Homo sapiens: one gene and its partners. The protein of the gene in region 2 purifies or fractionates together with the protein of the main gene of each other region. This does not show direct contact. Each region holds a gene or a part of one and is shown on either strand. Other genes may lie near its edges. The genes, in order: GOLGA5, GIT2 and PKN3.

What was found.
Region 1: the proteins of GIT2 (region 2) and GOLGA5 purify together in Homo sapiens (affinity purification with mass spectrometry, with the first as the bait; one large-scale study listed by BioGRID). This does not show direct contact.
Region 3: the proteins of GIT2 (region 2) and PKN3 purify together in Homo sapiens (affinity purification with mass spectrometry, with the first as the bait; one large-scale study listed by BioGRID). This does not show direct contact.

Annotation. Positions count from the first base shown.
Region 1 is NC_000014.9:92,797,305-92,800,804, reverse strand, and holds part of GOLGA5 (golgin subfamily A member 5), read right to left. Parts: intron 3,398-3,500; 5' UTR 3,368-3,397; coding exon 2,824-3,367; intron 1-2,823. UniProt on the Homo sapiens protein: Involved in maintaining Golgi structure. Stimulates the formation of Golgi stacks and ribbons. Involved in intra-Golgi retrograde transport.
Region 2 is NC_000012.12:109,986,326-109,990,050, forward strand, and holds part of GIT2 (ARF GTPase-activating protein GIT2), read right to left. Parts: intron 3,478-3,725; coding exon 3,365-3,477; intron 2,744-3,364; coding exon 2,638-2,743; intron 1-2,637. UniProt on the Homo sapiens protein: GTPase-activating protein for ADP ribosylation factor family members, including ARF1.
Region 3 is NC_000009.12:128,715,789-128,719,513, reverse strand, and holds part of PKN3 (serine/threonine-protein kinase N3), read right to left. Parts: intron 2,768-3,725; coding exon 2,591-2,767; intron 1,190-2,590; coding exon 1,127-1,189; intron 966-1,126; coding exon 889-965; intron 1-888.

The DNA of each region.
Region 1 (3,500 bases), on a different chromosome or scaffold from region 2:
AGCTATGTCAACTCTTGACTTAAAGATCTCTACTAGCATCACACTGGCTATGGCAGCCACTTTCAACTTTTATTGGCTAAGAACCACCCACAGAACAACAACAACAAAATCAGATGCCCTGGCTCCATCCCCAGAAAATAACGATTCAGGAAGCCTGGGAAGGCACTCAATAATTCATTTTTAAATTAACAACACACAAGCGATTCTAAAGCCTGTTGTTCAGGAATCAATCTTTAACAATGATTATAGAAGTAATGGGTTTAATTGCATAAACAGTATGACACAAGGGCCTTCACAAACAGGTCCCAACTTTGTTTGCTAGCTACATTTTCTTCATCACCCTCCAACTCACTCAGTGTTTCCAACTTTGTTACAATGTTTTCTACTCTACTAGCCTCTTAGAGTCTGTTCTCTCTGCATGGAATGCTGTCTCTAACTTTTTACCTGGCAAACTCCTGTTCATTCTTTAAGACCCAGCTAAAAATACAGACCCTCTGTGAATCCTTTCTGAATACCCTAGGCAATTAGTTACTTCCTCCTTCATACTTCCACAACACTCTGACCATACTTAATTGCTACATTTACTAGACCACAAGTAAATTATCTGTTTACATGTCTAGCTCACCCACTGGACACTTCCATATCCTTGCACCTAGTAGGTTCTTTGTGTAATTAATTGAAAGATAGCTGAGAAGAAATTTTGGAATATGTGAACATATTAATCAACTGCTACTGCCTGATCCTATTTTCACAACCCAAAACGTCTTCTTCTATACAAGTTTTTGTCTTGAAAATACAAGAAAGATTTTATTCACTAACAGCCAAGACAATGAAAGAAGCTATAACATCCAAGAACATGACAATCTCCCATCAATAATCAACTCTATAAAGAATCCCTGGCCAGGTGTGGTGGCTCACGCCTGTAATCTCAGCACTTTGGGAGGCCAAGGTGGGCAGATGACTTGAGGTCCGGAGTTCAAGACCAGCCTGGCCAACGTGATGAAACCCTATCTCTACCAAAAAATACAAAAATTAGCCAAGGGTGGTGGTGCACACCTATAGTCCCAGCTACTCGGGAGGCTGAAATGGAGAATCGCTTGAACCCAGGAGGTGGAGGTTGCAGTGAGCTAAGATCGCGTCACTGCACTCCAGCCTGGGCGACAAAGCGAGACTCCGTCTCACAAAAAAATAAATAAATAAATAAATAAAAACATTAAAAAAGGCCAGGCACAGTGGCTCACGCCTGTAATCCCAGCACTTTGGGAGGCCGAGGCGGGCGGATCACAAGGTCAGGAGATCAAGAGCCTCCTGGCTAACAGTGAAACCCTGTCTCTACTAAAAATACAAAAAAAAAAAAAAAATTAGCCAGGCGTGATGGCAGGCGCCTGTAGTCCCAGCTACTTGGGAGGCTGAGGCAGGAGAATGGCATGAACCCAGGAGGTGGAGCTTGCAGTGAGCCAAGATCAGGCCACTGCACTCCAGCCTGGGTGACAGAGTGAGACTCCGTCTCAAAAAAGAAAAAAAAAAAAAAATCCCTATGGCCAGGCCACGGTAGATCATGCCCATAATCCCAATGCTGTGGGAGGTCAAAGTAGGAGGATCACTTGAGCTCAAGACCAGCCAGAGCAACACAGTGAGACACTGTTTCTATTAAAAATAATTTTTTAAAATTAGCTGGGCACAGTGGTGTGCACCTATAGTTCCAGCTACTCAGGAGGCTGAGGCAGGAGGATCGCTTGAGCCTGGGGAGGTCAAAGGTAGTGCGAGCTGTGATAGCATCACGGCACTTAAGCCTCGGCGATAGAGCAAGACCCTGTCTCAAAACAACAAAAGAATCCCTGCAAGAACCTACTATCAAGTTTTTTGCCTTTTTTCTATTTTTATCTTTGGAGACAGCGTCTCATTCTACGGCCCAGGCTGGAGTGTAGTGGTACAATCTCGGCTCACTGCAACCTCGACCTCCTGAGCTCAATCAATTCTCCCGCCTCAGCCTCCCAAGTAGCTGAGACTACAGGCATGCACCACTGTGCCTGGCTAATTTTTGTATTTTTTGTAGAGACAAAGTTTTGCTATGTTGTTTAGGCTGGTCTCAAACTCCTGGGCACGAGTGCTCTGCCTGCCTCAGCGTTCCAAAGTGCTCGGATTACAGGTGTAAGCCACCACGCCCAGCCTATAGCTATTTTAAAACAGTTAGTAGGTACTTGAATTAGCCACATTTACCACGTTAATCTCATTTCACAAGAAAGAAGGTGTACTTGTAGAGGTAATCTCAGAGGGAATTAAACAATTGAAAACAAGAGTTCTAAGCTCTTGCTTCACTACTAGGTCAATGCCTTCAACTCTTCAACTTGGATCAAAGTTCAGTCTCTCAGCTTTATTTGTGGAGGATGTGGGGGGAAAAACACACAAAAAACACAACCCAGAAAATACGTGAAGTACAGCCTCCTGTCATTTTTATAATCCTAGTAACAAAAAGATATCAACTGGGATAGTCCCCGATCCAAACTGACATGTTTTCTTTCAGATTTCAAAATTTTCTTTTTTTAATCTTAAAATGTCTTAGAGAAACAAATTTGAAATACTTTGTTAGATGCTGAGTGGGTGAAGTTGCCCTCCAGACAACATGAAGTCCCTGCTACAACTGTCTATTGACTAATAGTAGTCAATGATGTCTCCCTTGTTTACACCACACATTTGCAGAGAGTCTGCCCTTACACCAGTGGAGACAGATTCCATAACAGTAGATGAGAAACACCATCGGATCATATGATGACACATTCAATTTGCTTAACTCTAAAAGAAATAAGAGGACTGATTAACTACCGTGGGTTTGGCTCCCAAAAGAATTTTCTTCAATGGTTTTGATGGTGGTTACACTGGGGTTCACAGAACTGACACTTGATGTCTGAGAGCTCTGAAAGACAGGTGTCTTGCCTTTTTCCTTTCTGATTTCCACCCTCCCGGTAGGCTCCTTCTGTGAACTATTAAGAAAATCAAACAGCAGCTCATCATCAGGTTCTGACTTTTTTCTTCGCACAAAATGGGATGAAGGCCTAGGAACAGATGCATTTTCAACAGGATGAGAGGCCTCTACTGGTGTCCGAGATCCTACTTTCACATTTGCAGTGCCAGCTAAGATGGTGGCTTTTTGATTTCGAATGTTATCAGCTGCTGATGAAATATACGTAGATTTAGGTCCAGTCTGATATATCAAATCTGTATTTTGCTGGTGAAGTTCAGTATAGTCAGTATTTTTGCTATATATGTTGCTGGCATTGTCTTTCCTACTGAGAGCTGTTGCAGCCCCTTGATCAACTCGGTTTAAAAGATCTTCTGCCTTTCCAGCAAGATCAACAAACCAAGACATGATGGCAGCAGGATAATCCTATTGGCAAACCTGTAAAAAGGACATAAAATGATCAGTGTGGCATAGTGGCAGAGTATGATAAATGGTTAAGACCAGACTCTGGAGTCAGGCAATCCTGGGTTGAAATCCTAAC
Region 2 (3,725 bases):
GCACATCAAAAGTTAATCCACCATGGCTGGGCGCAGTGGCTCAGGCCTGTAGTCCCGGCACTTTGGGAAGCTGAAACAGGCGGATCATGAGGTTAGGAGTTCGAGACCAGCCTGGCCAACGTGGTGAAACCCCGTCTCTACTAAAGATACAAAAAATGGCCGGGCGTGGTGGCTTACGCCTGTAATCCCAGCACTTTGGGAGGCCGAGGTGGGCGGATCACGAGGTCAGGAAATCGGGACCATCCTGGTTAACACAGTAAAACCTCGTCTCTACTAAAAATACAAAAAAATTAGCCGGGTGTGGTGGCGGACGCCTGTAGTCCCAGCTACTCAGGAGGCTGAGGCAGGAGAATGGCATGAACCCGGGAGGCGGAGCTTGAAGTGAGCCAAGATTGCGCCACTGCACTCCAGCCTGGGCCACAGAGCAAGACTCCGTCTCAAAAACAAACAAACAAACAAACAAACAAAAAAAAACCAAAAGATTAGCTGGGCCTGGTGGCACGTGCCTGTAATCCCAGCTACTTGGGAGGCTGAGGCAGGAGAATCACTTGAACCTGGGAGGCGGAGGTTGTAGTGAGCCAAGATCATGCCATTGCACTACAGCCTGGACTACAGAGCGAGACTCTGTCTCAAAAAAATAAAAAATAAAAAATAAAAATAAAAATAAAAAAATTAACCCATCATGATCAAGTAGGCTTTTTTGCTGAGATTCAAGGCTGGCTCAACATACACAAATCAATAAATGTAATTTGCCACATCAATAGAAGTAAAAGCAGGCCAGGCGCGGTGGCTCCTGCCTGTAATCCCAGTACTTTGGGAGGCCGAGGCGGGAGGATCACGAGGTCAGGAGATCGAGACCATCCTGGCTAACATGGTGAAACCCTGTCTCTACTAAAAATACAAAAAAAATTAGCCGGGTGTGGTGGTGGGCACCTGTAGTCCCAGCTACTTGGGAGGCTGAGGCAGGAGAATGGCATGAACCTGGGAGGCAGAACTTGCAGTGAGCTGAGATCGCACCACTGCACTCCAGCTTGGGCGACTGAGCAAGACTCTATCTCAAAAATAAATAAAAATAAATAAATAAATAAATAAATAAATAGAAGCAAAAGCAAAAACCACATGATCATCTCAATAGATGCAGAAAATGTTTTCTTTTTTTGAGACAGGGTCTTGCTCTGTTGTCCAAGCTGGAGTGCCATGGTGTAATCTCAGCTCACTGCAACCTCCACCTCCTGGGCTCAAGTCATCCTCCAACCTCAGCCTCCCAGGTAGCTGGTACTACAGGCACGGCCACCATACCCGGCTAAAATTGTTATATTCTTTGTAGAGACGGGGTTTCGCCATGTTGCCCAGGCTGGTCTTGAACTTCTGAGCCCAAGTGATCTGCCAGTCTCAGTCTCCCAAAGTGCTGGGATTACAGGAGTGAGCCATCGCACCCGGCCAAAAAGTAATAAAAAAAGTTCTGAATAAGTAAGTTCTCATGCTCTGTGTGAGTAAGCATTTATCCAAGGCAGCGCTTTGAAAATATGCACATTTCTTACAGCATCTCTCAAAAACATGCGAAGGCCCACATAAAGAAAACCACCTCACTCGTTTTACAAGTATCATAAACCATTCTGTGTACTATAGCTTTGAGTCACACATTGCTTTCTGAAGATCATACTTACTGTTCAACCTGGAAACCTGAAGAAGTCCCCTTCCTTTAGTACTTTTTCTAGTCCTTATTAAAAAGAAACAATTGTCCTATAATCTTTCTAGTCCCTTCTAGAAACAACTCTGAGATGGTTCCTATTTCAAAGTTAAACAAACAAAAAACTTATCAAAATATAATTTAAAAGCCATATTGGAAAAACACAAACAGCCTTCCAGAGACTTACTTTTCCTCTTTGCCCTGAACCTCCACTATATGAATGGCTGCCATTTGAATTCAGATTAAAGACGAAACCGACTGACAAAAAAGCTATTAATTAATGAATGTGCAGAAATGAGTTTTTGTTTTTCTTTCTTTAAAAACTTTTTTCAGCCTGGGCAACATAGCAAGAACCCGTCTCTACAAAAAATAAAAAATATTAGCTGGGTATGGTAATGCGCCTGTAGTTCCAGCTACTCGGGAGGCTGAGGTGGAAGGATTGCTAGAGCCTGGATGGTCAAGGCTGCAGTGAACCGTGATTGCACCACTGCACTCCAGCCTGGGCAACAGAGCAAGACCCTGTCTCAAAAAAAACAAACGAAAAACAAAAAAACCCTGGCCGGGTGCAGTGGCTCACGCTTGCAATCCCAACACTAGGAGGCCGAGGCAGACGGATCACCTGAGCTCAGGAGTTCGAAACCAGCCTGGCCAACATGGTGAAACCCCGTCTCTACTAAAAATACAAAAATTAGCTGGGCATGGTGGCATGCGCCTGTAATCCCAGCTACCTAGGAGGCTGAGGCAGGAGAATCGCTGGAACCCGGGAGGCAGAGGCTGCAGGGAGCCAAGATCGCGCCACTGTACTCCCGCCTGGGTAACAGAGACTCTGTCTCAAAAAAAAAAAAAAAAAAAAAAAGCCCACAACCAGACTTTTTTTTCGTTTTTTCAAATAAAACAATATGCTGTCTCAGCCCGCTCTTTTAGGGATTTTAAAAGGTGTGACCCACCTTGCTAAGATCTTTGGCAGTCACACTATCGTCATCCCGGCAGGGCAAGCGATGGACGAACGCTAACATCTGATACTTGGCTCTGATGAATTCCGCTTTATTGGGACTGGTTCAAAAACAAAAAAGAAAACAGTTCACTCGTTCAGATACAACAATCCCCATTCTTTGTACTGTAAAAAGAAGAGGAAGTGACCCACATCCCCCACTTGAGAATAAAATGAACAATGCTCAAGTAAGTTTCAGCAAGGTTTAAGACCTGCAGTTTGAAAACATACATTAGTTATTATAATGGCTGGGACTCCAGAGTACCTGCTTTTTATAGTAGCCCTCTTCTCTGTGTAATTGTCTGAACTGATTTAGCAACTTTGGGAGAAAGCAGCATTTAGTCCCATCTTATAAGTGAGGCAACAGGCAGACGGGTGCCCAGACCTAGATTTCTGGTCTGATCGCCTCTTATTTGAGTATAAGTTTAAATCTGATTACATTTACAGACTCCAAGCCATGGTTTCCAACTGAGGAAGCCACTTACTCCTGCTGGGTGGCCATGCTAAACAGATGGTCCTGCCCCACCCCATTCTGCATTTCTAATAGCAAAGAACCTGATGCACAACTAGGGTAACCCCCTCCTCTGCTGCCCTTGCGGAGACTGACCAAAAATAGCTGCACTCCTTTCAGTGGGCCCCATTTGTTATGAAGAAATAAAAGTATTTATAAACATTCCACTCACTGTACTTTATCCTGTGGATTAGCTTTACGTCTTCCACTCATAATAGACGCAGGGTCCAGCAAAGAATGCTCCCATATAGAGTTAGCACCGTTATTATACAAGGTCTCAACCATCTAAAACCAAGCAGGATGACATAAGACTTTAATTTCTTTTCACAAATATTCAATGGGGATCAGTGACTGAACAGAGTAAACAAAGTCCTGTTATAAACACTCATTTGTTAGGAATATCATTCATATCATTGTTTTCTGATTTGAGAATGAGAAAGATGATCAATCTATATGCAGGATTCAGCTTTGACTAGTAGGATAGTTAAATACCTAAAGTGTGACTGAACTGTTCTTATTCTGTATGAAAGAAA
Region 3 (3,725 bases), on a different chromosome or scaffold from region 2:
GCTAAGGTCACAGAAGGCAGAACTCGGCTGGGTGCGGTGGCTCACACCTGTAATCCCAGCACTTTGGGAGGCCGAGGTGGGCAGATCATGAGGTCAGGAGTTCGAGACCAGCCTGGCCAACATGGTGAAACCCCGTCTCTACTAAAAATACAAAAAATAAGCTGGGTGTGGTGGCATGTGCCTGTAATCGCAGGTACTCGGGAGGCTGAGGCAGGAGAATCTCTTGAACCTTGGAGGCAGAGGTTGCAGTGAGCCGAGATTGCGCCATTGCACTCCAGCCTGGGCAACAGGGCAAGACTCCATCTCAAAAAAAAAAGAAGCCGGGCGCAGTGGCTCACGCCTGTAATCCCAGCACTTTGGGCGGCCAAGGTGGGTGGATCATGAGGTCAGGAGATCGAGACCATCCTCGCTAACACAGTGAAACCCCGTCTCTACTAAAAAAATACAAAAATTAGCCAGGTGTGGTGGTGCTCGCTTGTAGTCCCAGCTACTTGGGCTGCTGAGGCAAGAGAATCGCTTGAACCCAGTAGGTGGAGGCTGCAGTGAGCCGAGACTGCACCACTGCATTGCATCCTGGGCGGCACAGCAAGACTCCGTCTCAAAAAAAAAAACAAACCAAAAAAAAAACAGAAGGCAGAACTCAGTCTCCTCTCCCATCCCTGACCACAGGCTCTCCCTTGGGCCAGGTGCAGGCTGGGGCTACGAGCCTCTAGGACTAGGAAGAAAGGGCCAGTGTGCCCAGCTGTCCCCTGGAATGAGGTCTGGGGTGGTGGAACCAGGGCATCCGCAGGTGAGGAGATTTCCTGGGACATGCCATGTGCCCATCATCCTATTGGCCAGGGTGGGTAAACAAGGCTGGAGATATGGATCCCAATGGGCGGCCCCCACCTTCCTTGCAGAGTCCAAAGTCTGCGATCTTCAGGAATCCCTGGGCATCCAGCAGAAGGTTATCCAACTTCAGGTCCCTGAGGGCAAGGGTGCAGATCAAAGGGACTGAGTGGGGCTTAGACCCAGGGAACAGTAACGGCCCCTGGAGCAGCCCAGGCAGGCGGAGGCAGCATCTGTCCTTACCCACTCCACCCCCACCCCCACCCCTACCCCCGTGCATCCCTGGGACAAAAGTCACCTGTAAATGATCTTCTTCTCGTGTAAGAACTGCAGCCCCAGGACAACACAAGCCACGTAGAAGCTGCAGGGGTGGTTATGGGAGAACTCAGGCCCAAGACACACACCAGGGAGGCAGGGCAGGGAGGCACCAGGATGGCCATAGCGGGGGGATCCCGGATGTCCCGGCCAGAGTCAGAGATGAGTGAGACTGGGACAAGCATCATGCTGAGGGTGGGGGTGCTCCAATAGTCCCAAGGTCGCCCCAAGGTTGCGTGCATTTCCAGCTCACCCTTCATGGGCCCTTAAATGGTGCCAGGGACCAAGTGTTGGTCCCTGCAGTGGATATTCATCATGCCTATTTTTTTTTTTTTTGAGACGGAGTCTCACTCTGTCACCCAGGCTGCAGTGCAGCGGTGCGATCTCGGCTCACTGCAACCTCCACCTCCTGGGTTCAAGCAATTCTCCTGCCTCAGCCTCCCAAGTAGCTGAGACTACAGGCACGCGCCACCACGCCCAGCTAATTTTTTTTTTTTTTTTTTTTTTTTAGTTTTTATAGAGATAGGGTTTCACCATGTTGGCCAGGATGGTCTTGATCTCTTGACCTCATGATCCACACGCCTCAGCCTCCCAAAGTGTGGGGATTACAGGCATGAACCAACGTGCCCGGCCTTTTTTTTTTTTTTTTTAGATGGAGTCTCACTCTGTCGCCAGACCGAAGTGGCGGGATCTCGGCTCACTCCAACCTCCGCCTCCTGGGTTCAAGCGATTCTCCTGCCTTAGCCTCTCAAGTAGCTAGGATTACAGGCGTGTGCCACCATGCCTAGCTAATTTTTGTATTTTTAGTAGAGACAAGATTTTACCATGTTGGCCAGGTCACGAACTCCTGACCTCAGGTGATCCACCCGCCTCAGCCTCCAAAGTGCTGGGATTACAGGTGCCCGGCCAATCATGCCTATTTTTCAAATAAAGATCTGAGACTCACCAGGTGTGGTGGCTCACGCCTGTAATCTCAGCACTTTGGAAGGCCGAGGTGGGCGGATCACTTGAGGTCAGGAGTTAGAGACCAACCTGACCAACATGGAGAAACCTCGTCTCTACTAAAAATACAAAATTAGACAGGAGTGGTGGTGCATGCCTGTAATCCCAGCTACTCAGGAGGCTGAGGCAGGAGAATGGCTTGAACCAGGGAGGCGGAGGTTGTGGTGAGCCGAGATCATGCCATTGCACTCCAGCCTGGGCAATAAGAGCCAGACTCTGTCTCACAAAAAAAAAAAAAAAAAAAAAAAAAAGAAACCTAATGCACAGCTTCATAAGCTGATACCCAGGATCACAAATGCTGTCAGTTGGTGCCAGGATGTAAACCAAGGCCTCTGACTCCTGCTCCCCTGCTGTTGGGCACTTGGAGAAAGCAGTATGTAGAGAGTGGGTGTAGGGAACCAGGCAAAGTTTGCTGGAAGAGGCAGGCAGGAGGGATGGAACCCACCGGGCCTGGGGCTCGGGGAAGACATCCTCGTGGATCTGCATCATGAGGTCACCACCAGGCACAAACTCAGTCACAAAGCAGGCATGGCTGGAGGTCTGGAAGCAGGCAAGGAGGGAGAGCAGGAAAGGGTGCCCTGTGCAGCCCACAGCCTCCAGGATCCGCTTCTCGCAGTACAGGCTACAGGAGAGAGCAAGAGTATTAGAGGGAAGGAAAACTTTCCCTGGGCTGTGCCCTGTGCCCTGCACAACACCCCTGGCTCACTGGGCCCTCAGCCAAAGTGCCAGGCAAGTAGACTGATGGTTTCTTTTCATTTTTTTTTTTTTTTTGAGACACAGTCTTGCTCTGTCGCCTGGGCTGGAGTGCTGTGGTGTGATCTCAGCTCATTGCAACCTCTGCCTCCCGGGTTCAAGAGATTTTTGTGCCTCAGCCTCCCGAGTAGCTGGGATTATAGGAGTGCGCCACCACGCCCAGCTAATTTTTGTATTTTTAGTAGACGCAGGGTTTCGCTGTGTTGCCCAGGCTGGTCTCGAACTCTTGGCCTCAAGTTATCCACCTGCTTCGGCCTTCCAGAATGCTGGGATTACAAGTGTGAGCCAGTGCGCCCAGCCTTTTTTTTTTTTTTTTTTGAGACAGGGTCTCACTTTCTTGCCCAGGCTGGAGTGATGTGGTGCGATCTCGGCTCACTGCAGCCTCCGCCACTGAGGTTCAAGTGATCCTCCCACCACAGCTTCACGAGTAGCTGGGTGTGCACCACCACGCCCAGCTAATTTTTGTATTTTTTGTAGAGGCGGGTTTCACCATGTTGTCCAGGCTGGCCTCGAACTCCTGGGCTCAAGCAATCCTCCCACCTTGGCCTCCTGAAGTGCTGGGATTACAGGCATGAGCCACTGTGCCCAGCCTCCCCCTCCTTTTTTTTTTTTTAATTAGTTTTTTTAGATGAGGTCTCATTCTGTTGCCCAGGCTGGAGATCTCTGCTAACTATAACCTCTACCTCCTGGGCTTAAGCAATCCTCTCACCTCACCCTCCCAAGTAGCTGGGACTAAAGGCACATGCCACCATGTCTGGCTATTTTTTATAGATGGGGTTTCACCATGTGATTCAGATTGGTCTTGAACTCCTGGACTCAAGTGATCC